Linked DNA regions of Homo sapiens. The protein of the gene in region 1 purifies or fractionates together with the protein of each later gene. This does not show direct contact. Each region holds a gene or a part of one and is shown on either strand. Other genes may lie near its edges.

Region 1 (7,221 bases):
CATTGATGTAGGTGAAGCTGGTGACAGGGACAGCCTTCCTAGGGGGCACAGCTGGGCACAGCGGCTCCTGTGCCTCATAGCCACCCCGTAGCAGGCCATCCTGCTGGCGGAAGAAGGTGGGCCCAGGAGGGCCGTGGTGGCGGGGAGGAGCTGGCCCCCCGGGACAGGGCCGGCCTGAGATAAGGCTGCTCACACTACCCATGACTGGAGCTTGTGGGGCAGTGGCAGCTTCAGGAGCAGGCTCCAGTGGCACTGGCAGAGTCTGCACAATGGCCATGGTGGCAGAGGCTCAGGCCTGGCCAGCGGCCTCGCAGGCGACCTGTAAGCAGGGCAGTGGTGTCAGAGTCCCTCCACCTTGAGACCCCTCCTGACCCACTGATCCTGACCAAACACCTCCTTGACATCAGTAACAAGCCCTGATCCCCACCAAGACTCCCCCTTCAAGTGCTGGAATGAATCTCAATTCCCCCTGGGCCCCAAACCACACTGCCCAATGCTGGTCTGAACAGGGCTGAGGAGTGAATTCACTCAGCAGAGATGCTGAGAGGCATGGGAGGCCTGGATGATTACCGCAGGGCCACCTGGCAGCAAAGACCCAGGCCCAAGCCCAATCCTGCATCCTCCACAGAGGCCAGGACTCAGGTGAGGGAGGGGCCTTCTCTACCAGCTTGAAGCACAGGTCCCTGGTCCTCTCAGCCAGGTGGCCTCATTACAGGGCAGTTTGGGCAGAGGTACCTCAGGGGTGCAATCAGCACCTCAGATGGTAATTAGGGAACAAAGAGCCAAGGCCAGGCAGTGCCCTGCCTCCCTCTGCTGGGCCTCAGTTTCTCTCAGACAGAAAGGCGGCTAAACTGCCTCTCTGTCGATCTGGCTAAATAAGAAACCCGCGGCTCTTAGGGAGTCCACAGGTGTCCTTTGGGGTCTCCTGCCTCCCAGAGGTGGATGCAGGCTCATACCAGTTTCCATGACAACTCCTAGCCTCTGCACACCCAATCGGTGAGGCCTGAAGGCCTGAAGGAGCCTCCACAGGCTCTGCCCCACTGCCAACCTCTCTGAAACCCTACAGCTTCAGAAGGTCCCCAAACTAACCCTGAGGGGAGGAAGGTAGATGCCCTGCCTTCACCTCTGGAGGCTGCTCCAAAACCTCACTTCCACAGAGCCCAGGCAAGAGGGCTCCACCTCCCCAGGCTCTGCTCCTTCCTGGAAGCAGCTGCAAGCCTCCACCCGGAACCCCCTCCCTAGTCCCAGTCCCGAGGCCGCTGATGACCAGGACTTAGGCATCTGCTGAAGTCATCATGCAGAGCGGGGCCAAGAAGTGGACAGAGAATTGCACTGGGAGTAGGAGTGTGTGCATTTAGTTATTTGTTGTGTGACTACATGCACAGGAGCATGAAAATGAACACGTGTGTATGAAAATGTGTGTGAAAACATCATGTGAGTCTATGCATGTTTGATATATCAGTTCATTCACATACATATGAGTTCATGTGTGAATTCACATGTGTATATCTTAGAAGAGTATGTGGATCAGGGGTCATTAGAAAGCCTGTGAAAGTTATAAATGTGGATCTAACAAGTGAATTTGTGGTGTGTGGGAGAGACGGTGCCTGGACAGACTTGTCAGTAAGTTCATGAGTTTATGTGTGAGCTCCTGTGTTTGTGTGTGACTAGGAAGGTGAGTGGTGCAGTGGAGCCTGTGAACGTGGGCACGCAGGTATGAGAGTGGTGGGAGCCTGGGTGGCTTGAGGGCCCATTGGTGGGGGGAGCCTGTTTCCTTCTCTCTTCGGCGTGTGGGGAGAGGTGGGACATTATCTAACTCCTTTGCCTGATCTGTTCCCCTTCTTTCTCGCATGCCCTCCATTAAATCCACCGCCCTCCTTCCCACCCAAGTCAAAAGACACTGCGAACCAGGAAGAGGTGTCCACGCTGGGGCAGGAGCTGCGGGGAGCTGGGGGAGGGGTAGGCCAGGAGCAGGGAGTGACCACAGGCCCCTCTGTAGGGCTGGGGCTCAGACCACCCCACACACCCCAGCCCCCAGCAGAGCAGATAGAGAACCCCCTCCCCTCCCCTCTCTGGGCCCACTCCAGGGTGTGGAGTGAACAGTGGGGAAGGGACTTCTTAGGGGGCCAAGGGGGCTGGCACCTCTGTTGCATTTCCCCACTTCAGCGAGCACGGAGAAAGTGAAAATTGAAGGAAGGAGACAGGCTCAGAGAAAGACAGGGACCCAAAAGAGACAAAGACTCGGAGAGGCCCGAGGGTCAGGCCGACAAGGGGACAGCCAGCGGGACCCAGTGAGCCAGGGCCCCCCAACCCCACGGAGCCGAGGGCCCATAAGTCCAAAGTGCCACAGAGCCGGGCCCTGAGAGCCACACATCCAGGGAGCCAGAGCCAGGAGTCTGGAAAGCCAGGCCCAGCCAGGCCGGCTCCCGCTCTTGGAGCCCGAAAGAGAAGGAGGGGCAAGTGGAGGCTCCATTTTGAGAAATGCGTTTGTGGCTGTGGGAGATGGGAACCCCTCATTCTCCCCAGCACTCCCTGAGCAATCACTCTGGCCCAGGAGCACCCCCCTTTTAGTGGGCTGAGGAGAGCAGAGGGCTGGAGCTGGTTCAGGGCCGGAGACGGATCTGAAGAGTTGGGGAAAGTCTCCCTCCCACCCAAACTCCAAGGACCAGTCAAGCGGGGTCAAGTCTGCGATCACGAGTTCCCATTCTGCGGCGGGAAGCCAGGAGCCCCTGACCCATTCTCCAGAGTCCAGCCCCCCTTCCAGAAAGTGGGGGCGACTGGGGAACGCCGTCCCCCCGGCTGGATTCCACCGCGCATAAGTTGGGGGCTCCCCAGGCCGCCTCCCAGACCCGGCCCCCCTCACCTCCGCCGCGCTGCTCCATGCTCAGCCCCAGGCCGCCCCCAGCGCTCCACAGGCGCGCCGCCCGGCCCCGGCTCCGGCTCCGGCCCCGGCCCCGGCCCCGGCCCTGGCCCGCGCGCCGCCACTCGGAGCTGCCCGGCCCAGCCCCGCCTCCGCCTCCGCGGCGCCCCCGGCCCTGGCCAGCCCCCGCCCGGTGCGAGTGGGCGGCACCGCGCAGGGGAGGGTCCGAGGGGCGTCTCCGCCCCGGGGCGCGGACACGCGCAAGCACCCGCGTCACGCGAATCCGCCGGGGCGCACGTAGGGGCTGCTCGGCGGCAGTCGGGAGCCCTCCCTCCGACGCCCTGTGACTGCGTGTCTGGGGGCTCGGTTCGGCTCGACGCGGCGGCGGCGGTGGTCACCCTCAACCCCAGCCGGGGCCCCGGGGCCAGCGGCAGCTGGTCATTGTTCCAGCACAAAGGGCCACGGCGCGGCGGCGGCCGCCCCTCCCCCTCCGCTTCTCCAGGCGAAGCTTCCCTGACACGCTCTCAGCCTCAGAGTCCCAAGCGAGAGGCCGATGGCCGGCCGTCCCCCACTCTCCGGTGCCGGGACCCCGCGCCCTAGCCCGAGTAGGAGGCCGAGGCTCGATCCGCGCCTGCCCCACGGCGGGTTGGAGGCGGCAACCTGGGCTTCGCGGAGGCGACGCCACCTGGCGGCCGGCTCGGAGAACACACCCAGCCGCCCCCAACACGCGGGCCCTGCCCCACTCCCCGGCACGGTGCCCTTTTCCCCGCGAACCCAGGCCGGCCTCTGGCGCGACCGCGTGCTCCCCAGCCTCCCCTCGGGATCACTTGCTAAGAGAGAGGTCATTTATCGGAGAGGAGCGGCCCCTGGCTCCCCAACAATCACTGGGGCGAACCGGTGCAAGCCTACAGCCCAAACCTACACCAGCCTCACGGCAGACAATATTCCACTTCCTCAGGGTCAAGTAGTCTCACCTTCTCGCACACAATACAGTCTCCCTAACACCCACAAGACCTTTCCCACATGCAGCCGCAGTCTCAGCCGTCACGTGGGTCCGCGTTCCTTCTTTCCATAATCTTCCAGTCCACCTCACACACAGACACGGTGTCACAGGCCTGTTGGGCACAGGCTTCCACAACAATCCGCAGTCCTTCGCACCCAGTCACAGTCTCAAGTGCACTTAGTCTCCTAACCATCTTTCACGCATTGACAGCCTCTATTCACAGTCACTCACACAGACAACTTCTTACACGCCGTGCTTCACAAATATTCTACCGCACAGCCTTTCCCCTAGGGGTCTCGGTGACCCGGTCAGGTCAGCTGATGCCTGCATCCCTGGGCAAAGGCAGCCTTTCTCCCCTAACCACCCCCTCCCCCGCAGGGCCAAGGCCTGCCGGAGCTCGCCCGGGCCCCAGGAAGGAGCATCCCCCCCTTCCAGGCCACAGCCCTGGCCGGCTCTCAGCTCTATTTTTAGCTCCATGGACAGGGTTGTTTTTCTTTCTTTTTCCCTGGAAAGGGAAACACAGCCCAGCCACCCTGACTCACCCCAGACCCTCAGCCTCACAAGAACAGACTGAGCCCCTCTCCCCAGCAGAGCCCCCTCCTCTGGCCTTGCCCTGATCCCTGCCTCCTGGGGCACCGAGAGCCTCCTCCTCTTTCTGGCAGCCTGCCCAGCTCAGGCGGCAGCTGGGCTCAGCGTGTGTGTAGGGGTAGGGGGTGGGGCGAGGAGGAGGCATCGGGCTACTGCCCACTCCCTCATTCCCTGGGGGGAGGGGCTCGTCCTCCTTTTTCTAGGGGGGCAGGCCCACTCTGGTATTGAGGGAGCGTTTACACTCATGCATTTTCTGGGGGGAGGAGACTCCGACTCCCGCAAGGAGTGGAGGTGAGGGTAGGAAGGGGACCCGCAGGCGCTCAGGCAGCTGCTCTCTGGGCTGGCGGTAACAGGCGGGGGCAGCTGTCCACTGCCATCAAGGGCCTGTCTCCGAAACCTTCAGGGATGCAGACACCAAGAATGTGCTGGGGAGAAGGACGTCCAGGAGCCCGAGTTAACCCCAGCCCTGCCCAGCAGCCGGGCCCTCCTGCTCCGCCCCGGCTCCAGGGGGCGCTGTGCTCCGGTTCCCGGGAGAGGGCTTATCCCCGCTCCAGGCGGAGAATGGAACGCCGTCCGGCCTGGGACCAAGCAAACGCGCCCCGGACTAGGGTGGATTTCCGCCCCGTGGTTGGGTTGGGGGCACAGGCCACTGGTCTGCGGAGCTGTCACGTGCTCGGCGTCTGTTTACGTCTTGGTCTTCACCTGCGGGAGGCCAGGAAGCAGGAACCTCCGGGTGCGTCCCACCCGGCCCGCCCCCGTCGGTAGTCACAGGGCTGCCCCTTTCCCGCACCCAATACGCGACCGCAGAGTGCCCTGCCCGCTGTGGGTCCGCGCGGGCCGGCTGGCGCTGTCCCTGGGAGTGCAAGGGTGGCCAACTGGGCGCGTCCTTTCCGAGTGCATGTGTGTTCGCGTGTCCCAAGTGCGGGCGTGGGTCTGTGCACGCGTGTGTGGGGCCCGTCGGCGTGCGTTTTCGTGTCACTTCCCTGTTCGGACTCTTCGCGGGGACCCCACCAAGTGCGGACCCCCCTCCTCACCCCAACCCCTAGCTTCCCTAGAAGCGGAAAGTTCGTTCAGGAGCGGGGATGAGCGGGAGGCGGGAGTTCCTGCACCTCCGCCGCCCCACCACTCACCCAGCGCCACCTGCGCCTCGGCTCCAGTTCCGGCCCCGCTCCTGCTCCAGCGCGCCCACCTCCTCGCCGCGACAACGCCGGCTCCCTAGCCGGCTCCGAACTCTAGGTTCCGAACTCTGGGCTCCCGGCTCCCAGCTCCCGGCGCCCGCCTGGCCCGACCTGGTGGAGCGGGGCGGGGCGGGGCGGCTCAGGCCGCGCCCCCCACCCAGGGAGGGGAGTGGTCTGCCCCGCACTCCACCAGCAGCCGACCCAGTGCCCAGCCTAAGAGTGACTCGACGGTGGCCGAGGCTGCCCCTCTGGCCTCTGACTTCACAGCTTACTGGATTTGGTTTTTGACCTGGGGAAGGGGGCGAGCATCACGTGACCGAGAATTCGGCTACCTGGCTGCCTTAAACTAAGCTTAAACTAAGAGCTTGACTCTGCCACCCTCCCTGCTCCGATGGGAGCCCAACCCGGTCCACTCTTGGCCCAATCCCCAAATACAGGGACAACCCCTGGGAAGCAGACAAAGAAGGCTCAAGTTTCACCAGAGCAGCTCCCACCTACCCCTACCACGCACACACCTCAGCGTGGGGCTGCCCAGGCAGAACCAGCACAGCCCCCTCCCTAGAGTAGGTATCTGCCCAGGTGAGCAGGCCTGCGGGTTCTGACCCCCACGGGGCATGGCTGGGCTTCTCGAAGACTCATAAAGTCCCACCCACAGGCACAAACAGGAAGTTGGCCTGTATTGCAGGGAGGCCCCAAGGGCTCCCTCCCACCATGGCACTCAAGGCAGCATGTAGGAAGGTCTACAGGTATCTGGCCCATATGGGCTACAGGAGACCTCGGTGAGTTGTTTTTTGAGACGGAGTCTCGCTCTGTCGCCCAGAATGCAGCGGCACGATCTTGGCTCATTGCAACTTCCGCTTCCCAGGTTCAAGCGATTCTCCTGCCTCAGCCTCCAGAGCAGCTGGGACTAGAGGCGCGCACCACCACGCCCGGCTAATTTTTGTATTTTTAGTAGAGACGGGGTTTCACCATATTGGCCAGGCTGGTCTCAAACTCCTGACCTCGTGATCCACCCGCCTCGGCCTCCAAAAGTGCTGGGATTACAGGCGTAAGCCACCGCACCCGGCCGAGTTGTTTCTTCTTAAACCCATCCACAGCAGAGAGGAAGCTGCCAGAGGACCAAAGCTGTCCCCTCATGGCCAAGTGTGACATACATTATCAATTAGAGGACAAGGCTGTAGATCCAACTGGACCTGGCTTAGCCAGGCCTTTCCTGAGATCTCAGGGAAATTTTTTTTTTTTCCTCCCAATCCACCGAACCTGTGAGTCAGGGAGATTCTTAACATCCAGTTGGGTGTAGACAGACCAGTCCTATCCCAGGGAATCCGCACAGGCCCTAGGGACCCCCCACTGCTTTCTAGAATCCAGGGATCTGAACAGACTGGGTGGAATCATGATATGGGGTATTTAAGGCAGGTATGGAATAGAACGTGTTTGTGCAGCGGGTAGGGCTGGGGGGAGTATTAGCTTCCCCTCCCCCTCATCATTCTGGTTTGTGCTGTGTGGGGGTGTCTGCTAGAAGGGTGGGGCAAGACAAACAGCCAAGTCTGTATCTATCCCTCTATCCCCAGTTCACAGAGACCTCACAAAGG
Region 2 (6,927 bases), on another chromosome or scaffold:
AGTAAACAGAATTACCATATAACCCAGCAATTACACATCTAGGTATACATCCAAGAAAATTGAAAGCATATATACCATACAAAAACTTGTAAATGAGTATCCACAACATTATTTATTATGGCCAAAAAGTAGAAACAACCCAAATGCCCATCAGTTGAAGATTGGATAAACAAAATGTGGCATAGCCATATAACAAAATAATATTCTGCCATAAAAGGAATGAAATATTGATACATGGTATAATATGAATAAACCCTGAAAGCATTATGTTAAGTGAAAGACACTAAAGGCCACATATTATGATTCTATTCACATGCAATGTCCAAAATAGGCAAATCCATAGAGACATAAAGTAAATTAGTGGTTGTCAAATATGGGGAAGGGGGAATAGTAACAAAAGCTACCAGGTACAAGGTTCTTTTTAGGGTAATAACGTTCTTGGATTAGTGCCGACATTTGCATAATTTTGTGAATATATTAAAACTACTGAATTGCATACTTTAAAAAAGTGAATTCTATGGCATATGAATTATATCTCAAAGAAAACTATTATAAAAATTTAAGTCTCTGCTTTTTTTTCTTTTGAGACAAAGTCTGGCTGTCACCCAGGATGGAATGCAGTGGTCCAATCATGGCTCACTTCTCTGCTTGCTACTTTTTATTAGTAAATATTCTACTTTCCTCAAGAGGTTGCTCATGTTGCTTGTAACAGCTTTAAAAGATCTTTGAAGTTAGCTACTATACAGATGAATGGTATTTTTAGTAAAGTAAAACTACTATAACAGAGAAACTTTCTAAAAATCGGATTAGTTTGGTACAATTTCATTTTTTCAAAAGAAATGTCATTAATACCAAGTTCATTTTTAGAGAGTGGAAAAGCTTCAACAAGTCCTTATAAAAATACATTTTTTAAAAAGGTCAAAATGCAATACTTTGTTTTCTTAATTATTGGACATTTCATTTTCAGATATATCATTAGTAGATTACCTGTTTAAAATGTCATTAAATGCCTAGCAATGAATTAAAACCCAAGTAGATGCAACTTTGTGACCTCTACTTACAACTTTCTACATTCTGCATTCTGTTGTCAGATTCCTAGTCCATCACTAGCTCCTAATCTCTTACATCAATTATTCCATTCAATTCTTATTCACAGGGGCTAAAATGTTTGGTAAATGCAATCAATTCATTTTTCTAATGCTGGGGAAAAACTAGAGTGGGCCCAATTTTTAAGGTTAAATTTAGTCCAGAATGTTTGAATAAATATTCAACAAAACGATTTCCTGGAATTTGGAACATAAAAACAGCCTATAGAGTTGTGAAATGCTTTCTAGGTCCTTGGGGAATTTTTTCACGTATTTAGTCATGGGGCAAAGTATTACGTATAAAAGCTTCCTGGTCCTAGAACAAAGACGTATTTTACTGCTCAAAGCTAAAGGAATTAGTATTGTTAAACTAAAATAGCATACCAATGAAACCAGCTAGGTATTGGCATAACTTAACCAAGGTATGTAACCAAAGATAAATTGTACCTTATTATGCATTCTTCCTTGGGAGGAAAAATTCTCACATTAATAAGATTTAGCCAGCCAAAACAGAAAAAGTATATAGATATATGTGTGTCTGTGTATGTAGGTATGTATAAGGATTAGGATTTTGAGTGGCAATTTAAATTTGACGGTTTGCCAAGCTATGCTGGGATACATAGTGGGCATGCTTGACACAAGCAAAACGTGAAGTAAGAGACGACCTGTCAAACAGCTGCTATCTAGTTACTCCCTCGGCAGCACTCCCAACTTCTCCCGCGATGTCTGTGTGTAAGAGAAAGATGTCAAAGCACCAAGAAAACCACGGGGGCTGTCAGAGCAACAGCCAAGTCCAAACCGTGCATCCCAGGGTGAAATCCCACCCGTACCCTCAAGAGCTGGTCAGACTGCGGCTCTTTTCTAATATGAGTCTACCTAAAATAGAAAAATAAACACAACCACAGACCCTGGCCAACCCTCTCTCTCCTCCCCTTTGTGACTCTCCCAAACGCTGGAGGGATGTTAACCTCTGGCAGGCCCGTGGAAGCCAAGCCCCGCGACCTGAGGAGGCGTCCAGGAGCCTCGGCGCAGCCCTGGGGCCTCGAGCCCGTGTCCTCCACCCACCCGACAGGGCCGGTCACCGGTCACACAAAGGAGCCAGTCGCGGGCGCTGGACGCGGGACTCGCCCGAGAGCAGGGAGCCACATCTGGTTCCTGCACGCTGGCAAAAGAGACCCGCTGGAAAATAAGGACTAACGCCCAAACCTGTTGCACAATTCGGGTCCCTTTCACCCAGAAATGAACAAGGGCGCTCAGGAACGGAAAAGCGCGCGGCCCGGTCTCTGCGGGCCGCGGCCGCACCCGGCAGACGGCGCGGAGGCAAAGGCGGCCCGCAGGGCTCCCACCTCCGGCGCTTTGTCTGTGGCGGCAAGGCGGTGGGGGCGGTCGGGGCGTTGGGAGCAGAGGCGGTGGCGGGGCGGGGGCGCCCCTCCTTCACTGCGTAGCCCCTCCGCCCCGCGGCCCGCGCAGGGGAAGAAAGCCGGGCCCGCTACCGCCGCCGCCGCCGACTGCACCGGCCCAAGCCGGCCACCCGGCCGCGGGGCCTGCGCGCTTCTCCCGCCCGGGCCGAGCGGCGGCCACACTCACCTGGCTGGCGCTGACGCTAGCGGCCGGCGGCTCCGGGGCGTTGGGGAAGACAGGGGAACGCTAGCGAGGTGCGGGCGGAGGCGGAGGGCGCGGCGGGAGGAAGGCGGGCTGGGGGCGGAGCGGGCCCGGGCGGCGGCGGCAGCAGCGGCGACGGCTGCGGCTCCAGTCACTCGCGGCAAATCGCGTCCCGGCCCCTCCGTGCGTCAGGCGGGGAGCGGGGGTGCGGGTGGCCCGGCGACCTCTCGGCACCCGCGGCCCGAGCCGCGTCCGCGCGACCCCGCGCGCGCCCGGGTGACGGCGGTACAGCAACCCGCCCGGCGCGGGAAGGAGGAAGGAGGCGGGGCGGGGCGGGGCGTCCAACCGGGCCTGGGGCTGAGGGCTGGGCGCGAGTGGGACTCTGGCGCTCCGGACGGACCCTGCCGTCCCCACCCCTAGCCGAGGCCCAGGCTCCCCAGGCGGGAGGCAGTCTTGGAGAGTGGAAGGGTACCTAGATCTGGAGTCAGAAGTCTGGGCTTAAGAGAGGGTCCGTTACTTGACACCCTGGCAGGTCATTTATTTCCTCTGGCCTCATGCTGGAGTTCGAAGGTTCGAGTACAAAGTCTCCAAGAGCTGCTCCCAAGTACTCACTGCCAAGCGGTGGTGTGGCTGAAGGATGAAGGCAGATGAAAGGGAAAGGGTTGCGGTGAGGAAGGGCTGGATTCAGGGCATTTGTTTTGCTTTGAGGATCTTTCCACTGGACAGTCCAAAATTAATCCACAATGGGGCTCCCTGATAATGGCTACTTCCCCATTTTTACCAACCTAGTTATTTTTCTCCAAGTATACTGACTTAAGAGTCCTTGTTTTCATTTTATTGCGCAAATCATTTGTATGTCATTTCCTGAATTCAGTTCAAAAGAGTCATCAGCAAATTCACACCAGATCAGAGCAGCTGTGTGGTCCCAATTTCAAGACTTCCATATTATTCACTCAGCCACTCACTTCAGTATCACCTAATTCCGTTGATAAAATCTTCCTATTCCAACAACTAAGCAACCAAATTTCTCTCCACTAAAGTTTTCTGACTTAAAATCCCGTGGATTAATTCTTCCTCTTAATTCTGTGAATATCAGTCTGTCTCCATGACTTCCACCTCTTTGCCACTCTAGGTCAAGCCTTTAACTTCACTGCTGCTTCAGTTCCATATAACTGCCAGAGAGAATGCTCCAAAAAGACAGAGCTAAGCATGAAACGTCCCTCTTTAAAATCATTCAAAGTCTCTCCACCTGGTTGAATCAGGTTCAAACTCATTACCATGGTTTACAAAGCCATTTAAAATCTGATCTATTGACCTCCTTGGCTCCAGCTTCAACTCCTAATATATCTACGTATCACACAAATTCAACAGACTTTGTCTTTGTGCCCTTGTAGTTTTCCCCCACCTGAAATCCATCCCTCATTTAACCAGTTGAACTCCTATTGTCCTTCAAGATAATGAAGATAATGCATCCCTTCCTCCTTGGAATCTTCCCTGACATCATCTCCTTTCACCACATCTGTATCCTTACCCCACACATTTACAATGAATTAAATACTCTTTTTCTCTCTGCTTTCATAAAATCGTCTATCTACAGTATTCCCTATGATAATCTTTAATACTTGCTTTTTTCCTGTTGCTTTGCTTGGTGGCCTTTTCTTCCTAGACTGTGTGTTCCTTAAAAGGACAGGGATTTTGTCTAGTTCATTTTTTTTGCTCCCCAGAACATAGCACAGTGCTCAGCACAAAAAAGGTTCTCTTTAACTGTTTGCTGAAGCGTTGAAATAATTTTCCATCCCAACAAATAGATGTTGAGCATCTACTCAACGAAAAGAAAATACAGGGAAGTCCACAGTCCCAGCCTTTTTTAGCCTTCCGTGGTATTCTGTTTTTCCCTTCTCTACTATGTGGCATTCTCTGCTTATCATTTTAAACTCTCTCCAACTACCATTCACATTCTTTGCTTATCCTAGTAAAACAAGAGCATGCCAAGCAATCCATTATAATAATTCACAAAATATCCCTGCCCTTCCTCTTTACATACTTCTGGTTCCACATTGTATTACCTAGGTGTTAGATAAGAGGTAACTGCTATAATGGAAAAAACATTAAACTATAAATTCAGAGAATGAAATTTGGATGCTACGTTTTCCAATAACTACTGAATGAACTTAGCTCAATCACTTATAGTCATGAGGCTTTACTTCTGGAGTTTCTTTGGCTCTATGATTAGCATTTGTTTTTAATATTTTATTATAAAAGTAAATATATATATGCTAGATCCTTGCAATGTAGCTATCCAGCATATGTTTGAACTCCAAGTGATAGGAAACCATTCATGACCTCACAACAGTTTTCATTTTTAAACAGTCCTGCTAGTTTCTATGTTCAACTAAAATCTGTCTCTGTATACATTTGGTAAGTAGCTACAGTATTGGTAGAAACACCACTGGACTTAGACTCCAAAGAAGTTGGTCAAATCCTGGGCTTATAACTTCCTAATTGTGTGACCTTAGAAAAGCACAAAACTGCTCCAAGTATGAGTTTGCTCCATTCTAAAAGGAGAAAATGATAATAATAGCACCTTAAATCATTATTGTAAATATGAATGCAATGCGTATGAATGTGTCCAGTGAGTCTGAACCTAGTACTAACATTGTTTAATACAGAACAGCATGGTTCCCCCCCATATGCAGCCTTGTAAACATTTGAAGTCAGCAGTCACAATGTGTGCCTTCTCCACCCACTTTTTATTCACATCTCATTCGTCTCCATACGCATTTATCTAAACATTCTCCAGTGTCTCTTAAAATGTGGCACCTAGAACTGAATACAATATTCCAAGTATAAAGGAAGGAGTAGAGGAGTACAATTTTCTGCATCCTAATGAAGATATTTCAAAATTCAGTTTGATATCACATTATTTTTCTACCACCCCATACCGTTCATAAATATCATGTTATTGCCAACTAAAAACAAGCAAAAATTACCCCCAAATCTTTTTTAAGTCTTTAACATATATACAGCTATAAAACCATATCTTCTCCAACCTGTATTTTGCAATTTGTTTTTGGAAACTGTGCAGATCTTTGCATTTATTCCTCTTAAATATCACTTTGGAAGTTATGTACAGAAGCCCCTGCCAACTAGAAATCAATGTGAAGTGAGAGTAACATTTTAAAAACATTAAAGGGTGGAGAAAAAGAATCCAAAGCCACCTCAAGCAACAAGTTTCTAAATTCTTAATTTCTCCTCTACTACTTCTTTTAGATTTATTAATTATTATTATTATTATTATTAATTATTTTAGAGGGAGTCTCACCGTGTCGCCCAGACTGGAGTGCAGCAGCACGATCTTGGCCCACTGCAACATCCACCTCCCAGGTTCAAACCATCCTCCTGCCTCAGCCTCCCTACTAGTTGGGACTACAAGCATGTGCCACCTTGCCCAGCTAATTTTTGTATTTTTAGTAGAGACGGGGTTTCACCATGTTGGCCAGGCTGGTATCGAACTCTTGACCTTGTGATCCACCCACCTCAGCCTCTCAAAGTGCTAGGATTACAGGCATGAACAACCGCACCTGGCCTAATTTATTTATTTTTAAGAGATGAGGTCTTCCTGTATTGACAAGGCTGGTCTCAAACACGAGGCCTCAAGCGATTCTCCCACCTTAGCCTCCCGAGTAGCTGGAACTACGGGAGTGAGCTACCATACCAGCAAGCTTTTTTTTTTTAAGCCACATTTGAATGTCATCTAAAATTAGATAACTTCCCATACTCATCTTGTTTTATTTATATCATAAATTAATAGTGAAAATGCCTTCTATGAGTGTGTTCCATACATTGTTTGCTTGAACCACTGAAGAATTCTCAGTCTGTCTCAAACTGGTATTGTTACTGCCAATTTCCTGAAACTCAGCTCGGTTAGGTAATTTGCTACACAGTCATCCTGCACCAAAGTTGGCTTGGAGAAACTGCCCCTCCTCCAGCCCTTGCTGAAGGGTGGCCCCAGGCAATATACTCTTTTGTGTTGTCTGTGTAATCCCTGAATCACTGTTGATTGCCCCTGGGTGGGCACTGACCTAGACACAGGCAAGTCATACTCATTCAAAAAATGACCTGGGGGGAAAAAAATCAGTCCAAAAAAAAAAAAACCCTGATCCAATCAGGCAATCAATTGAGGAAGCTGAAATCCAGAAGGACTCACAGAGGGTGTTCATGGGCAGGAAGGGCCCTGGCA
Region 3 (7,807 bases), on another chromosome or scaffold:
ACTACAGGCACGCGCCACCATGCCTAGCTAATTTTTGTATTTTTAGTAAAGATGGGGTTTCACCATGTTGGCCAGGATGGACTCGATCTCTTGACCTCATGATCCACCTACCTCAGCCTCCCAGAGGGAACCGGTTTTGAGAGGGATATCTGGAGTTCAGGAGGGCACTGGTTTTTGGGGGAATATTTGGAGCTCATCAGTTTTAAACATGTGAAATTTGAAATACCTAGTACATAATCAATTGCAGATGTTGAGTAGCAGATGGATGTACAAATCTGGAGATGGGGGAGATGACTAGCCTGGAGGTGTAAGTTTGGGAGTATTTAATGTATAGATGGTATTTAAAACTATCAGACTGGTGAGCTCACCACAGAGTGAAAAGAGACCATAAAGAGATGTCCAAAGTCTGAGTCCTGGAGCCTCCTATGTTGAGAGGTTCAAGACTAAAAAGACCAGAAAGGTAGGATAAGAACTAGGATAGACTCTTGGCTCAGAAGCCAAGGGAAGAAAACATTTCAAGAACCAGCATGGTTGACCTCTTCCCTGCTGCTGAGGGCTCCAGCCAGGTGAGCTTGGAAGTTGAGCACCAGATTTAGCAATAAGGCAGTCACTGATGCCCCTGAGAAGACCTGTTGCTGTGGAGTAGTGGGGGTGAAAGGCTGCTCAGAGTGGATTCATGGGAAGGGAAGGATAGGAATTGAAGACACCAAGCATGGAAGAGCCTTTTGAAGATTCCAGTTATAAAGTGAAGCAGGGGGAGACATAAAATTTAGGAAGCATTTTAGTTTTTACCACGGCAGATATTCCAGTATGCTTGTAAGCCCTTAGAAGTGAAGCAGTAGAGAAGGAAAATTTGCTGATTCAAGAGAGAGTGGGGACAGTTGCTGAATCAATGTCCCTGAGTTAGAGGTGATGGCACTAATGCACAGACCGAGGCTAATCTTGGCTAAGAGCACCAAGAGTTCATAAATGACAGGAAGGACAGAGGAGTATATGCAGACAGATGCAGGCAGGTTGGTAGACAAGAGTGATAGAGAGGGTATGTGTGTTCAGTTCTCTTCTGATTATTTCTATTTTACCAACAAAAGAGGGAGCAAGGCCATTAGCTAGAAGTACTAGGCAGAGGTTTGATTAAGGAGGAGAAGATGTGAAACAGTCCTTTAAAGAGGAGGGAAGAGCACAGGGAAGTATAGTAGTTTTGCTGTTAATTGATTAACAGAACGTTATAATTATTTATAACAACGTTATAAAGTAGTTGGTGTTTTAAACTTGTAATGAATACTACTATGTAAATGAGAGAAGGGGCATTTGCTAAGGAATCCAGTATTCATGTAAACAGAGTTACATCAATAAGGCTAAAATAATAACACCCTAAAATTAAAACAACATGGGATATCATTTAATCCTGAATAATTTTGAGGGCACTTTGGACCTTTGTAATGATTTAGAGTAATCTTTCTAAATATCACTTAGAATAATGCCCTGCAGATGTACAGCTACTGGAGTTCTGAATAGGCCAGTTAAATCAGATTTTAAATGTAAAACATGCAAATGTGAGTCAGTGTTTATAATATTAAAAAATACATAAAATTTGTATGGTAGGCCTCTGTGTCAAAATTCATTCTATATTTGGTATACACTATACATTAGGGTGTTTTGTTGAGTAGAGGTAAATAACCAGAGGGAAATGAATTCACCTGGGTTTTAACGAAATAAGAAGCAAATAGGGAGGGAACAACATAGCAAATGACTAGATGTTCTTATCACTAGAAAGGTTACATATCCTTTGTGTTGGAGGGCAAAGGCAAGGGGTTGAGCAGAGATGGGTAGAGGAGCCAAGACAGTGGACAGGAAGTGGACTGAGATCTAGTCTGTGCTCTTGGCAAACTCTCCATTCCGCATTTCCCTCTTCTGCTGCCTGACATCTGCTATTTTGAAACCTAGGAAGGTCAGGAAGATACAGCAGGAGTGACTGACCTAGAGAATGTGCAGTTGGAAACTAGGCTTTGGTAGCTTTCACTTTTTATCTCCTTTAGAAACACGGATGAAAGTTCTGCCATCAGTGAGGGATAAATAGTAGCCCAGGGCCTTGAAAAAGCAGTTTTAGATCCCTGGGACAATTTCTACTATTTTACTATGTCTGAAGATTAGGGAGGTTATTTTTGTAATTTGAGGCCAACACCCATCTCTTGAGCCTTATATGAAGCACTGAAGAATGTTAATAGATTTGGCTAGCATTTGGGTCAATTATTTCAAATGGCTATCTGGGAGTCATAAAACAGATGGTCCTGAAATTGTACTGCGTTGGTGGATGTAGATTGGCAGCCATCTTTTAAGGGCAAAATTATGTTAAAAGCTAAGCCAGAACAAATGAGCAACAACTGATTTATAATATTTTGCAATGTTATGAAAAATGGTTCCTTAAAACAGATTCACAGGACTGATGGTGATGTTCCATTGTGTTTCTTTGTGAAAATGTGATATTAAACACACCAGTAAATGAATCTGAGGCCCTCCGTCCTTCCCCTCCTCCCTCCCTCCCTTCCTTCCTTCCACAGATCTAGTCTTCGCTCCTTCCTTCCTTCCTTCCTTCCTTCCTTCCTTCCTTCCTTCCTTCCTTTCCTTCCTCCCTCCCTCCCTCTTTCCTTATAGTTATTTTGGGAGTATGGATGTATTTAGTTTGGGTCTTTGGTTTTAATTAGAGTATTTATTAAATAACAAGGAATCTGCTTTGAGTTAGTGTAAAAGCAAATCATGAACTATAGATTACCTTTGAAATTACTGTAACATGGTCAATATTTTTGTTGTTTTTGTAGTTGGGACAAGATAAATTTTAAAATAAAATTGTCAACATTTAAAGAAAATTGTCAACATATAGCTACTCTTTGTGAAACTGACCTACTATAAGATGAAACTTTTTTTATCATTTGCTGTAAAAGGAAGATTTGTTATTTATTGGAAAATTTTATAGGTCTAAGAGCTCTTATATTAAATTATATATATATATATATATATATATATACTCACACATACATATGTGTATATATATTTAGATGCAGGATCTCACTGTGTTGCTCAGGCTGGAGTGCAGTGGTGTGATCAGAGGTCACTGCAGCCTTTAACTCCTGGGCTCAAGTGATTCTCAAGCCTCGGCCTCCTGAATAGCTGGGACTACAGGTGCATGTCAGTATACCTAGCTAATATTTTTTATTTTTGTAGATACAGGGTCTCTCTATGTTGCCCAGGATAGTCTCAAACTCCTGGCTTCAAGCAGTCTTCCCACCTGGGCCTCCCAAAGTGCTGGGATTATGCATGTGAGCCACCATGCCGGCCAGCTATAGAATTTTAAAGCTGTAATAACCTAACATGTGGGGTACCCCCCACAGATGAAGAATCAGAGAGATTAAATAACTTCTCAAGGAGACTCAATTATTAGTGGCACAGAAAAACGTAAACCCTAGTTTGCTGACTTTGTCTAGTATCACTTAGGTTTCTAATACACAAACTTTCATTGACAGGATTTAAACTTGCAAGTGACTTACAAGTTTTGACTGCCTAGTCCTCATATGCTTAGGTTATGCTTTAGGTTTCTAGTTCTGTGGGACTGAGTTAAATAATGGTTTCCCCATGTTCATGGATAGGAATTTTAAAAATTGAGATATAATCCACATACAATGGTATCTATTTTTACTCATTCATTTTGAAATCTAAAGTTTAACTTCTATTCATAATATCCATTTTACTTAGGCAGTGAGTATATAATAACCCTCACCTCAGAAAAGTTTCTACAGTTAAAAGACACGGGCTGAGGAGAGTTCATCTTCATCCTTACTAGCATTTTGGAGTACGTATAAAGGCGTCTGCGGATGCCTAATGATTAAAAAAAAAGTTCCCCTCACCATGGTGAATAGGGTTTTTACGAGAAAAATATGGAGAAAGCAGAGATTATTACCATTGAAAAAGACAAGGTGTTAACAGAAATGGGAGGGTAGCTTGATAGAGTCCAAACTTGACTGAACTCTCTAGGTTAGGGCCAAAGGCAAGTACTGAGGACAGGCATGGACTGTTGCGTTCAACTTGTCAAAAAAGTGGCCAATATGTAGTATGGACCAAGCCTATAGAGGCGCTGAGAATACAGAGATGAATGAGCCAGTTCCTGAAGGAGCCCAGTCTGCGTGTGTTTGCGAGTTGAGAAGAGGAGGAGGGAGGCAGCATGGGGAGTGTGGGGATGGAGGAATTAGATTGAAAGAGAAGGCCGAAAAACTGAATATATAGTAGAAATTTGGGGTGCAGATATGTGCTGCCTAGAAAGGCAGAAACCTGTCCCAGAACCTCTTAATACATTAGTCTCATTTGCCAAATTTGGCCAGATATCATGACTGTGGTCCTCTCGAGATGCCCTCTTGAATCGGCTTAAAAATTATCCTTCCGCAACCACCCCTAGCTTTCCCCACCGCCAGTGCGCCGGGCAGGTTGAAAACTGCACCCACGTTTGCAGCCTCTGCTCTCCGCAGGAGACAGGAATCCAGGGCTTTGCCGTCGTCATAGCAACCAGAAGTTCCGCGGTCCCCTACCCTCCCGCGACTTTTTCCACTTCCTCCGCCTGCAGGGCCCAGCCGCCGCTTCTCTCGCGAGACTTGTGCGCCGCGCTAAGCCGCTCCGTGGTGATCTCACCCGAGACTTGGGGGAGAGGGAGGAGTGAAGGAGGGGAAGGAATGGGGCGGGAGGCGGGGCGGGGAGGGGAAGGGCGAGTGAGGCGCCGCCACTGCCGGCAACTTTGTGAGCGAGTTCAGTGCGTGCGTGAGCGAGTGAGCGAAAAGTCAGTGCAGCGCCGAGTCCCCGGCTGGAGGGTCCCCGGGGAGGGCCAGGTCTGGGCCCCAGAGGCCGCCCCCGCAGCCACTCCATTCCCTCCCGCCTCTGTGGCTCCCTCCCCATTTCCTCCCCCACCGGTCGTTGGGGCCTTCCCGCCCCCGTCCGCACTTACCTGTCCCCTCCCCCATGCGGTACGCACCTCCTCATCCCCCCCCCGGCAACCTCGCGCCCACCTTGGACCTTCGGAGCCCGGACCCCCGCACTTGCTTCCCGTACTGGCCGCCCCCTCAGTTCTTTCTGCTGGCGGGCGGGATGGGGGCGCTGAGCCTCGGGGACGGCGCGAGCGGGGGCCCGGGCGCCTAGACAATAGTTGATGCCCAAGGACGGGGCCACCTCCGCCTTCCCCTCCTCCGGGAGCTCGGCCCCCGCCGGCCCCCCGCCAGCCTGTATTCCGGGTCCCCCTCGGAGCCAGCCTCGGGAATTGGGCTGATTCCACCCCCGCCTCCCTCGGGCCCCCCTCCGCTCCGCGCTCGGCGCCCGCCTCGGGCCGGCCTCGCCGCTCTCCGCAGAGGAGGCGGCGAGTGAGCGCGCGCCGGCCGTCTACACGGTTTCTCTTTCTCCCCAGGGAGAGCGCGCGGCGGACGCGCCCGGGACGCGCGGCGGCACCGGGAGGCCGGGCCGAGCGGTAAGTGGTCCCCGCGCCCGGGTCCTGGGGGGAGCGGGGGTGCAGGACGGCTGACAGCCCCCTGCCCTGTTTCTGGCCGGGGTTGGGGTCCAGGGCCCGGAGCAGGACCCCAGGAGGCCGGTTAAAGTTTGATTTTCGATTTGGTGGCTTGCTGGTAGCTTAGCCCGGCGGGGGCGAGTCCGGCTTCACCGCGCCCGGCGCGCGCGCACGCACCCCAGAACCCGAATCTGCACAACTACTGGGCAGGCGTCTCTGCGGGAGGCCAGGAGACCCGCGTCCCGGTCCGGGCGGTTGCGTCCACCCCGCTGAGCTGGTCGCCACCTGGCGACCCTTCCCCTCCAGTCACCTGGGTGAGCGCTTTGCAGCCTGAGCTGGAGTAGGCAGGCCGAGTTGGTTGAGTTGTGGGAAATGGAGACGAACAGCTCGGTGCCCGAGGGTGGTTAATTTCCCCTTTGGGGGTCTTGGGGACATGAAATTTTGGGATGCTCTAACCTGCTTTCCGGGGAGCGAGTAAACCGCGAAAGGGCTGGGAAGGCGTGAGGGTGCCGCAAAAAGAACTTTTCCTCCTTCGCCCCATCTGTTACCAGCTTCTCTCCTGACCTTAAAGGAAATTTCCGAGGCTCTTAAATCGCTCCACGGCATTTCTAGGTGGACCAGTAATCGTGTTGGGCAGGTTGAAATTTCATCGCGGTTTGGAGAACAGAGAGACATGGGAAATGGCTCACTTCCAAGGAAGATGTTTAGCTAAATTGTTGGCATTCGTTTTCTAAGAGAAGCATTTGGGGATTGATGGCTCCTAGACTACGATTACCTTATAGATTTTATTTTTCCTGACGGGTAGTTTAGAGGCAGCATTCGCTGAAATGCATACTACCTGTGAAACGATCATGTTTCTAAACTGGAGCCAGCGATGTGATGCAAATTTCAGAATAAAGGTGTCGACTTTCATCAGGTTCCAGGTCTATCTGGATGGACTGGGATTGGCGTTTCCTCTATAAAGCAAACCTTTCATGTTGAAACTCTGAGTCAGACTCTTAAAGCCATTGTCTTTATGCTGGTACTCTGTGGGAGTTAAGTGTCAACTTTCTCCTGTTTTCTCCTATGGAGTATCCGTCCAAGGCAAAGATTCTCTGACTGAATCTTTTGGAAACGTGCAAGGTTAGATCATACTGAATTCTGCAGCCAGTTTAGTAATAATATTAGTTTTCTATATAATCCTGATTTAACGACTGTCATTTTTCTCTTCGTTTTTTGAAAGCTGCAATTAAGCTACCTTTACCAGGATTTAAAAAAGAGGATAATATGGAACAGTGGTAATAACAGTAGGTCTCAGCTAATTTATTATGGCCACCGATGTGTCCAACTATTAGATGACATCCCAGTTATTAACTACAATATTAATATTAAAACATTTTTCCCATGGAATCAATTATGCTAAAGCATTAACAATTAACAGTGCATTTAAAATGATGAGTGATTGTTTCCACATAAATGGTTAGAGGCAAAATAAGAGATTTGGGGGATGAATGGCTTTATGTCTCTGACAACTAATTTTCTTATTAATGCTTAAGTAAAGGACTCTTGAAGTTGACTGTCATTTGATTTTTCTAGTTGACTGAGTGAACAAGTTTGGTGAGTGGCTTGAGACAGTCAGTAGGTGTTGCTGTTGTTAGCTTCTCTGCAGTTCCTGCTTCTGCTCCTCGAGTTTGAAATTGCAATTCTGGTACAGTGAACTTTTAAAATCTGAAGTATCAGTCAGTGATAGTTGTGATTTCATTGGAGGAGTCTATGGCAAGGTTGACTTCAACTCCAGGTAATAATTGCAAAGCACCTCTCTGATACTTTGTACTGAGATTCATTTAACTCTTCTTTTGTCTCTGTCCTTACACTAGTATTTTCAGGCTTCTGCATTTGCTTTGCTTTTGCTTTGAAGTATGTGTGTAATTTTGGTATAGTGCCCCCATCTTCATTGTTTAGGAACTTTTAAAAAACACTTTCTAGTGAGTTTATTGAAGTCATAGATTGAAGATTGCTTGAGATTAGCAGTTTTGTAGACTTCGGGGGGATCTTGGTTGAGTTGTGATGTATATATGTTCTATCTTAAGTTGCAATCTGAATTTTTAGATAAATGACTGTTTTTCTTTTTTTAAAAATCTGTTTGAGCTGTGAAATGGGAGCATGAGGAGAGCTGAAATGGTATGAGAGTGGAATTTGATGGAAAGTTTGTCATGATTAATAATGTGACTATGTGCCTCTTATCAGTCCTTACCGTTGTATTATCATTGTTATTGGTCCGTATCAGTGCACAAA
Region 4 (6,892 bases), on another chromosome or scaffold:
AAACAACAAATCAGCTGGGCATGTGGCTCATGTCTGTAATCTTTTGGAAGGCCGAGGCAAGAGGACAGCTTGAGTTCAGGAGTTGGAGACCAGCTGAGGCCAACATAGTGAGACCTCATCTCTCAAAAAAAAAAAAAATAGCCGGGCATGGTGGTGCGTGCCTATGGTCTGTGGTCCCAGCTACTCAAGAGGCTGAGGCAAGAGGATAGTTTGAGCCTGGGAAGTCAAGGCTGCAGTGAGCCATGATGGTGCCATTGCACTCCAGCCTGGACAAACAGCAAGACTTTGTCTCAAAAAATAGTAATAATAATTAATTAAAAAGATAAAGATTTAAAACCAGTAAATCAGCAACCTTGCCCTTGACATTATATCCTGTATCTAGTTATCTAAAGATGAAAAGGACTTAATATTGAATAAAAATTAACATTTAGCCATCTCAGCACTAATTTACAGCCCTGGAACCTGTGTGTAACAAGGAGGCAGTTTAGTGCATTAAGAGCAGACTTTGGAGTCAACTAGACCTGGGATTGAGCTCAAAGTTCATTACTTTCCACCTTGGACAAGTAAAAAGAGATTATATTACTTCCTCATGGGGTCACTGTAATTGTATCAAGAAGTGCCACTATGTCTTTTCCAGCAGTCTCAGAATTTCAATTTAAGCCTCAAAACTGAAGACAATAGGTAAAAAGCACTTCTAAATTCTCAAGCAAAAGGGCAAACAGATGTCATCTGAGCTCAAGCTCAAGCTAAGGAAGGCCAGACTAGACCTGTGACTTCTCCGTATCCAGGCTACATAAGAAAGACAGGAGGCCGGGCGCGGTGGCTCACGCCTGTAATCCCAGCACTTTGGGAGGCCGAGGCGGGCGGATCACGAGGTCAGGAGATCGAGACCATCCCGGCTAAAACGGTGAAACCCCGTCTCTACTAAAAATACAAAAAATTAGCCGGGCGTAGTGGCGGGCGCCTGTAGTCCCAGCTACTTGGGAGGCTGAGGCAGGAGAATGGCGTGAACCCGGGAGGCGGAGCTTGCAGTGAGCCGAGATCCCGCCACTGCACTCCAGCCTGGGTGACAGAGCGAGACTCCGTCTCAAAAAAAAAAAAAAAAAAAAAAAAAGGAGATGTTTGAGACAGAGGAAAGTTTGGAGTTTTCAGCCTAGTAGGAGCATTTCCCTTCCAGACTACAAGGGGCCAACTCTGCCCCCCCAAGACAGGTGAGGAACATTCCAAGAGAATCAGTCACAAGATTGGGAGTGACTCAAGAAGGAGATACTCAGTGTGTCACTCCCCTGCTAAAGACATCCTGAGCTGCAGAAACTCACAGGCCTACCCCAGTGCATCAGAAAAGGTGTGCTACAAGGGTGAAAGCTCTTGGGTAAATCTGAAATGTGTCCCTCGGAGTTTCCAGATGCAGATGAATACAGAGGTAGAGCAAGGAAAAAGGGCAGCAGTGGAAATATCATTCCCATTGTGTGTTTCCTTTGGGCCAAGCAGATGCCACAAGAGACTGCTGGGTAATCAAATAGGAGATCCCAGTAGAAAGAAAATGTGGGGTGATGTGCTAAAAGCAAGAGCTAGGAGGTGGGCCAGCATCACAGAAAGCCCGTCACCTATGTCAGGAAAATCTCTGTGGGACTTCCCAACAACTGACAAACATACCCTGAGAAAGCACACATGTGGATATCATGCCCAGAGGACACCAATGGATGGATCAGAGCAGCATCAGTCACCTGAATGGCTTGCTCTCTCTCCTCCTCCAACACACTGGAGAAAGAAGGAAACTCAGAGACAGCCAGGTGAGAAGAGGAGGAGGATACAGAAAAGCAGAACAATGGCTCACACCTCCTTTATGCACTGCAGGGGAGGGATTAGAAACTGGAAGTGACACTGAAGGTTTAAATTGGATTGGACTTTTAAATGCTTGGAAGTGAATCATACTGACCCAAATGTGATTTATTTTTATAACCAAGTGACAAGAAAACTATAGAATTTGCAGGAAACGTCACTGAAGAGGGAAAGAAAAAATCATGTTTGAAGGCAGTGGAAGGAGAAAATAAAACCATTTCCTGTTTGTTCTCCCATCAAATTTAGCCCACTGAGTATGCCAGTTATGTAAAGATCAAATGAAAGTATACATGCAAAGAGCTTGGCATATTATCCAGCCTTTAACAAAAAGCCCATTAGAGCTCAATGTTGGCTATGGTCATTGACCTCACGGGTGGATCACCTGAGGTCAGGAGTTCGAGACCAGCCTGGCCAACATGGCGAAACCCCGTCTCTACTAAAAATACAAAAATTAGCACGGCGTGGTAGCGGGCGCCTGTAATCCCAGCTACCAGGAGGCTGAGACACAAAAATCGCTTGAACCCAGGAGGCGGAGGTTGCAGTGACTGGAGATAGCACCACTGCACTCTGGCCTGGGCTACAGAGCGAGACACAGTCTCAAATCAATCAATCGATCAATCAATCAATCACATGGAAACGGTGCAATGTCTTAGCTGACAATATCGGGCTGCTGGAGGTTTACACACACCTGCTTTCCTCCTTTTGTGTGTAAGCTGTGAGAAACACACCTCACAGACGAACTCCCAACCACCACCCAGCAGGGGCGCAGCCGGAAAGACCCAGCTAGCAAAGACCTCGCCTGACCCAGCACAGCGCCCCCTCCTGGGCGCGATCCTACGTCGCCCAGAAGTCGAGGGGAGGAACCGAGGGAACGCGCAAGAAAGGACGCAGCGTCAGCGCGGACGTTCTCACGCACGGCACACGGAAGCAAGCACGGCGTGAGTTCGTCCCTCTGCGCACGCCCCGGTTTCCTCGCGTCCGCGGCTGCTCACCCGAACTCCAGATGACCTCCAGGGAGTTGGAAACTGCCAGCTCCAACCGAGCCTTTCCTCTTCCCCAGGAGGACGCAACGCGGATGCTTGCAGCTGGTCACCACGACTCCGACTCCGACTCCTGGCCGCCGCCCGCGCGGCTGTGCGCTGGCCGTCATAGCGCGCGGGAGGACGCGCCTGGCAGCGGCAGGAAGTGACGCGCTCACTACCCCGTCCCGCGGCCGCAGCCAATCTCTCCCCGCGAGGGCGGAGGCGCCGAAATCAAAGCGAGAGCGCCTCGGCCTCTCCAGCTGTCCGCGGTGCGTAATGCGTCGCGGAGGGCTATCAGGTTGGGGAATGCCGTGTTTCCTTCCGAAGGGCAGCGTGCCTTAGAGTTTCGCTGTAACTAAAGTCGCTTACAGTTGTGCTTTGAATATTCATCACCCGTCAGCCTATCCACTCCCAGATTCCTGCAAACCATGCATTTACATGTACAAGCCGCCTGCTCTTACCAACCTCGGCACCACTGCACATTCTTTTTTCCGTGAATGACCTCGCCCACCATGGTGCACCCATTTGCCCTGTAGCTCAAATCAGCGTGGTACCAGGATAAGGATAGGTCGTTTAGAAACATCCCATTATAAACAACTATGCTTAAGGTATATTCATAAGTCATGGGAGGAAATAAAGGCTAATTGATAAATCATGCTGGGAAGAGTTAGTTACAAACAGTGGAAAACAGACATTTTCAGATGTTTGCACACCATGCACCATGCAAAATACAAACCAGCTGAATCATAAAAACAAATGACTAGTTACTGGGAGGGTTTTCTCTCTTTCTCATTATTTTTACTTCTACCAAAGTAATGTGCACATACTGGTAATTTTATTTTATTTTAATTTTCACCAAGCTAGCTAATTTTCTTTCTTTTTTTTTTTTTTGTGGAGGTGGGCTGTCGGTCTTTTGTCGAGGCTGATCTCCAACTCCTGTCCTCAAGCAGTCCTTCCACTTGGGCCTACCAGAGTGCTGGGATAACAGGCGTGAACCACTGCGCCTGACCTATAGCTATAATTTTAAGAAGTAAAATGGTGCAAAAACCGCAACAAGAGCAACCTGACCCTCCTACTTTCAGAAACAATCACTTTTAACTCTTTGAACTGTATTTCTGATATTTGCCTACTTATTTCTAAGTAATATGCTTACTCTCCATGTTATACTAAATGGGTATTAAGCTTTTCACAGCATCTCTCCTCACTATCAACATTCACATTCATTACAAAGGTACTTACAATATCTTCTCAAAAAATGGTAGTATATAAAAAGGATAATATATTGAACAATGAGATTAATCCCAGAAATACTAGGTTGGCTTAATATTTGAAAAGCCAATGTAATTCAGCATATTAACAGAGGGAGAAAGGAAATACATATAATCATCTCAATAGATGCAGAAAAAAATTAATAAAATCCGATACTCAGTTGTGATTAAAAAAACTCCACAAAATCTCTGAGCAAACTAGAAATAAAATGAAACTTTAACATGATATATGGCATCTACAAAGACCTACAGCTAACATCATATTTAATGACTGTTTTGAGCTGAATTGTGTCCCCTCAAAATTCCTATGTCGAAGTCCTATCCCCCAGTACCTCAGCATTTGGAGACAGGATCAAGTTAAAATGAAGCCACTAGGGTAGGCCCTATTCTAATGTTATGACTGGTGTCCTCGCAAGAAGTAGAGATTAGAACCCAGACTGTGTTCTATTGGAAGACTGTATGATGACACAGGGAGAAGGCAGCCGTCTACAAGCCAAGGAGAGCAGCCTCAGAAGAAACCAAGTCTGCTGACACCTTGATCTTAGAATTCTAGCCTCCAGTATTGTGAGAAAATTAATTTATGTTATTTAAGCCACACAATCTTTGATACTTTGTTATGGCTTGATACTTTGTTATGGCAGCCATAGCACTAGCCTAGCCTTATCTTGGTGAAAGACAAGATTTGGGAGGAGCTAGGGTATCCACTCTGAGCACGTTTAGTCATCATGTTGCTGGAGATTCTAGTTAGCACAACTCATAAAATTTAAAAATCAATAAAACGTAGTTAAATTGGAAAGGAATAAGTAACCGTCTTTTTTTTTTAAAACAATCCTGAGGAATTAATTAAAAAGCCATTAGAAGAAATAAGTTTAGCAAGGTCGTAGGATTCAAGGTTAATATACACAATTGATTATATTTCTATATATTAGCAATGAACAATTGAAAAGTAAATTTTTAAAACAATACCATTTATAATACCATAAAAAACATAAAATACTTAGAAATATATTTAGCAAAAGATATGGAACACTTGTATACAGAAGACTATAAAACTGAACCAAAAATAAAATTCTAAGCACCTCCACCCCCAGCCATCTGAATGGACTCCTTCCTCTTGGCCAGAGCACTCCAAAGTTAACCTGAAAAACTGGTTGAAGCCATGACAGAGCAGGGGTCAGATATGCCTCATTATGCCACCTTTCTTTTGGAATTCAGGAAAAGCCAACTAGCATTTAACATTAACACAGACCTTAAGTCTGATAAGAAACATTTACAATCTAGTCTCTCTGAAGCCTGCTACCTGGAGGCTTCAGCTGCATGATAAAATTTTGGTCTCCACAACGTCTTATCTTAACCCAGACATTCCTTTCTATTGATAATAACTGTTTCAACCAATTGCCAATCAGAAAAATTTAAATCTACCTATAACCTGGAACCCCTGCCCCACTTCAAGTTGTCTCGCCTTTCTGGACCAAACCAATGGTCAATCTGTATCTTAAGTGTATTTGATTGAAGTCTCATGTCTCCCTAAAATGTATAAAACCAAGCTGCTCCCCAACCACCTTGGGCATATGTTGTCAGGGTCTCCCAAGGGCTGTGTCACAGGCCATGGTCACTCATATTTGGCTCAGAATACATCCCTTCAACTATTTTACAGAGTTTGACTTCTTCCTTTTTTTTAATTTCAAGTTTTTGGTTACATGGATTCGTTCTTTAGCTGTGATTTCTGAAATTTTAGTGCACCCATCACCTGAGTAGTGTACACTATATGTAGTCTTTTATTCCTCACTCCCCTCCAAACTTTCCCCTCCGAGTCCCCAAAGCCCACTGTATCACTCTTATGCCTTTGCATCCTCATAGCTTAACTCCCACTTGTGAGAACTTACAATATTTGCTTTTCCATTCCTGAGTTACTTCACTTAGAATAATGGCCTCCAGCTCCATCCAAGTTGCTGCATAAGACATTATCTTGTTCCTTTTTATGGCTGAGTAGTATTTTATGGTGTATATATACCACATTTTCTTTATCCATTCGTTGGTTGATGGACACTTAGGTTGGTTCCATGTCTTTGCAATTGCAAATTGTGCTGCTATATGTGCATGTGTTTTTTTTTTTTTTTTTTTTTTTGGAGACAGTCTCACTCTGTTGCCCAGGCTGGAGTGCAGTGGCGCAATCTCGGCTCACTGCAAGCTCCGCCTCCCACGTTCACGCCATTCTCCTGCCTCAGTCTCCTGAGTAGCTGGGACTACAGGCGCCCACCACTGCGCCTGGCTAATTTTTTTGTATTTTTAGTAGAGACGGGGTTTCACCATGGTCTTGATCTCCTGACCTCGTGATCTGCCTGCCTCGGCCTCCCAAAGTGCTGGGATTACAGGCGTGAGCCACCGAGCCCGGCCGCATGTGTGTTTTTTATGTAATGACTTATTTTCCTTTGGGTAGATATTCCGTAGTGGGATTGCTGGATTGAATGGTAGTTCTACTTTTAGTTCCTTAAGGAATGTCTATACTGTTTTCCATAGTGGTTGTACTAGTTTACATTTCCAGTAGCAGTGTAAAAGTGTTCCCTTTTCCTCACATCCAGGCCAACATCTATTGTTTTTTTACTTTTTTGTAATGGCCATTCTTACAGGCGTAAGGTGGTATCTCACGTTTTAATTTGCGTTTCCCTGATGCTTGTGATGTTGAACATTTTTTCATGTTTGTTGGCTGTTTGTATATTTTCTTTTGATAAATGTTTATTCATGTCCTTTGCCCACTTT

What was found.
Region 2: the proteins of LZTS2 (region 1) and SESTD1 purify together in Homo sapiens (affinity purification with mass spectrometry; 3 studies listed by BioGRID and IntAct, with this or other methods). This does not show direct contact.
Region 3: the proteins of LZTS2 (region 1) and SIPA1L1 purify together in Homo sapiens (affinity purification with mass spectrometry; 4 studies listed by BioGRID and IntAct, with this or other methods). This does not show direct contact.
Region 4: the proteins of LZTS2 (region 1) and NUDT15 purify together in Homo sapiens (affinity purification with mass spectrometry; 3 studies listed by BioGRID and IntAct, with this or other methods). This does not show direct contact.

What each region holds. Positions count from the first base shown.
Region 1 is NC_000010.11:100,995,595-101,002,815, reverse strand, and holds the start of LZTS2 (leucine zipper putative tumor suppressor 2), read right to left. Parts: upstream 3,009-7,221; 5' UTR 2,864-3,008; intron 320-2,863; 5' UTR 278-319; coding exon 1-277. UniProt on the Homo sapiens protein: Negative regulator of katanin-mediated microtubule severing and release from the centrosome. Required for central spindle formation and the completion of cytokinesis.
Region 2 is NC_000002.12:179,261,827-179,268,753, forward strand, and holds the start of SESTD1 (SEC14 domain and spectrin repeat-containing protein 1), read right to left. Parts: upstream 3,007-6,927; 5' UTR 2,673-3,006; intron 1-2,672. UniProt on the Homo sapiens protein: May act as the primary docking protein directing membrane turnover and assembly of the transient receptor potential channels TRPC4 and TRPC5.
Region 3 is NC_000014.9:71,315,685-71,323,491, forward strand, and holds the start of SIPA1L1 (signal-induced proliferation-associated 1-like protein 1), read left to right. Parts: upstream 1-4,791; 5' UTR 4,792-4,819; exon of another isoform or gene 4,820-5,437; 5' UTR 5,438-5,497; exon of another isoform or gene 5,498-5,847; intron 5,848-5,989; exon of another isoform or gene 5,990-6,164; intron 6,165-7,250; exon of another isoform or gene 7,251-7,807.
Region 4 is NC_000013.11:48,033,847-48,040,738, reverse strand, and holds the start of NUDT15 (nucleotide triphosphate diphosphatase NUDT15), read right to left. Parts: upstream 3,014-6,892; 5' UTR 2,993-3,013; coding exon 2,835-2,992; exon of another isoform or gene 2,747-2,834; intron 1-2,746. UniProt on the Homo sapiens protein: May catalyze the hydrolysis of nucleoside triphosphates including dGTP, dTTP, dCTP, their oxidized forms like 8-oxo-dGTP and the prodrug thiopurine derivatives 6-thio-dGTP and 6-thio-GTP.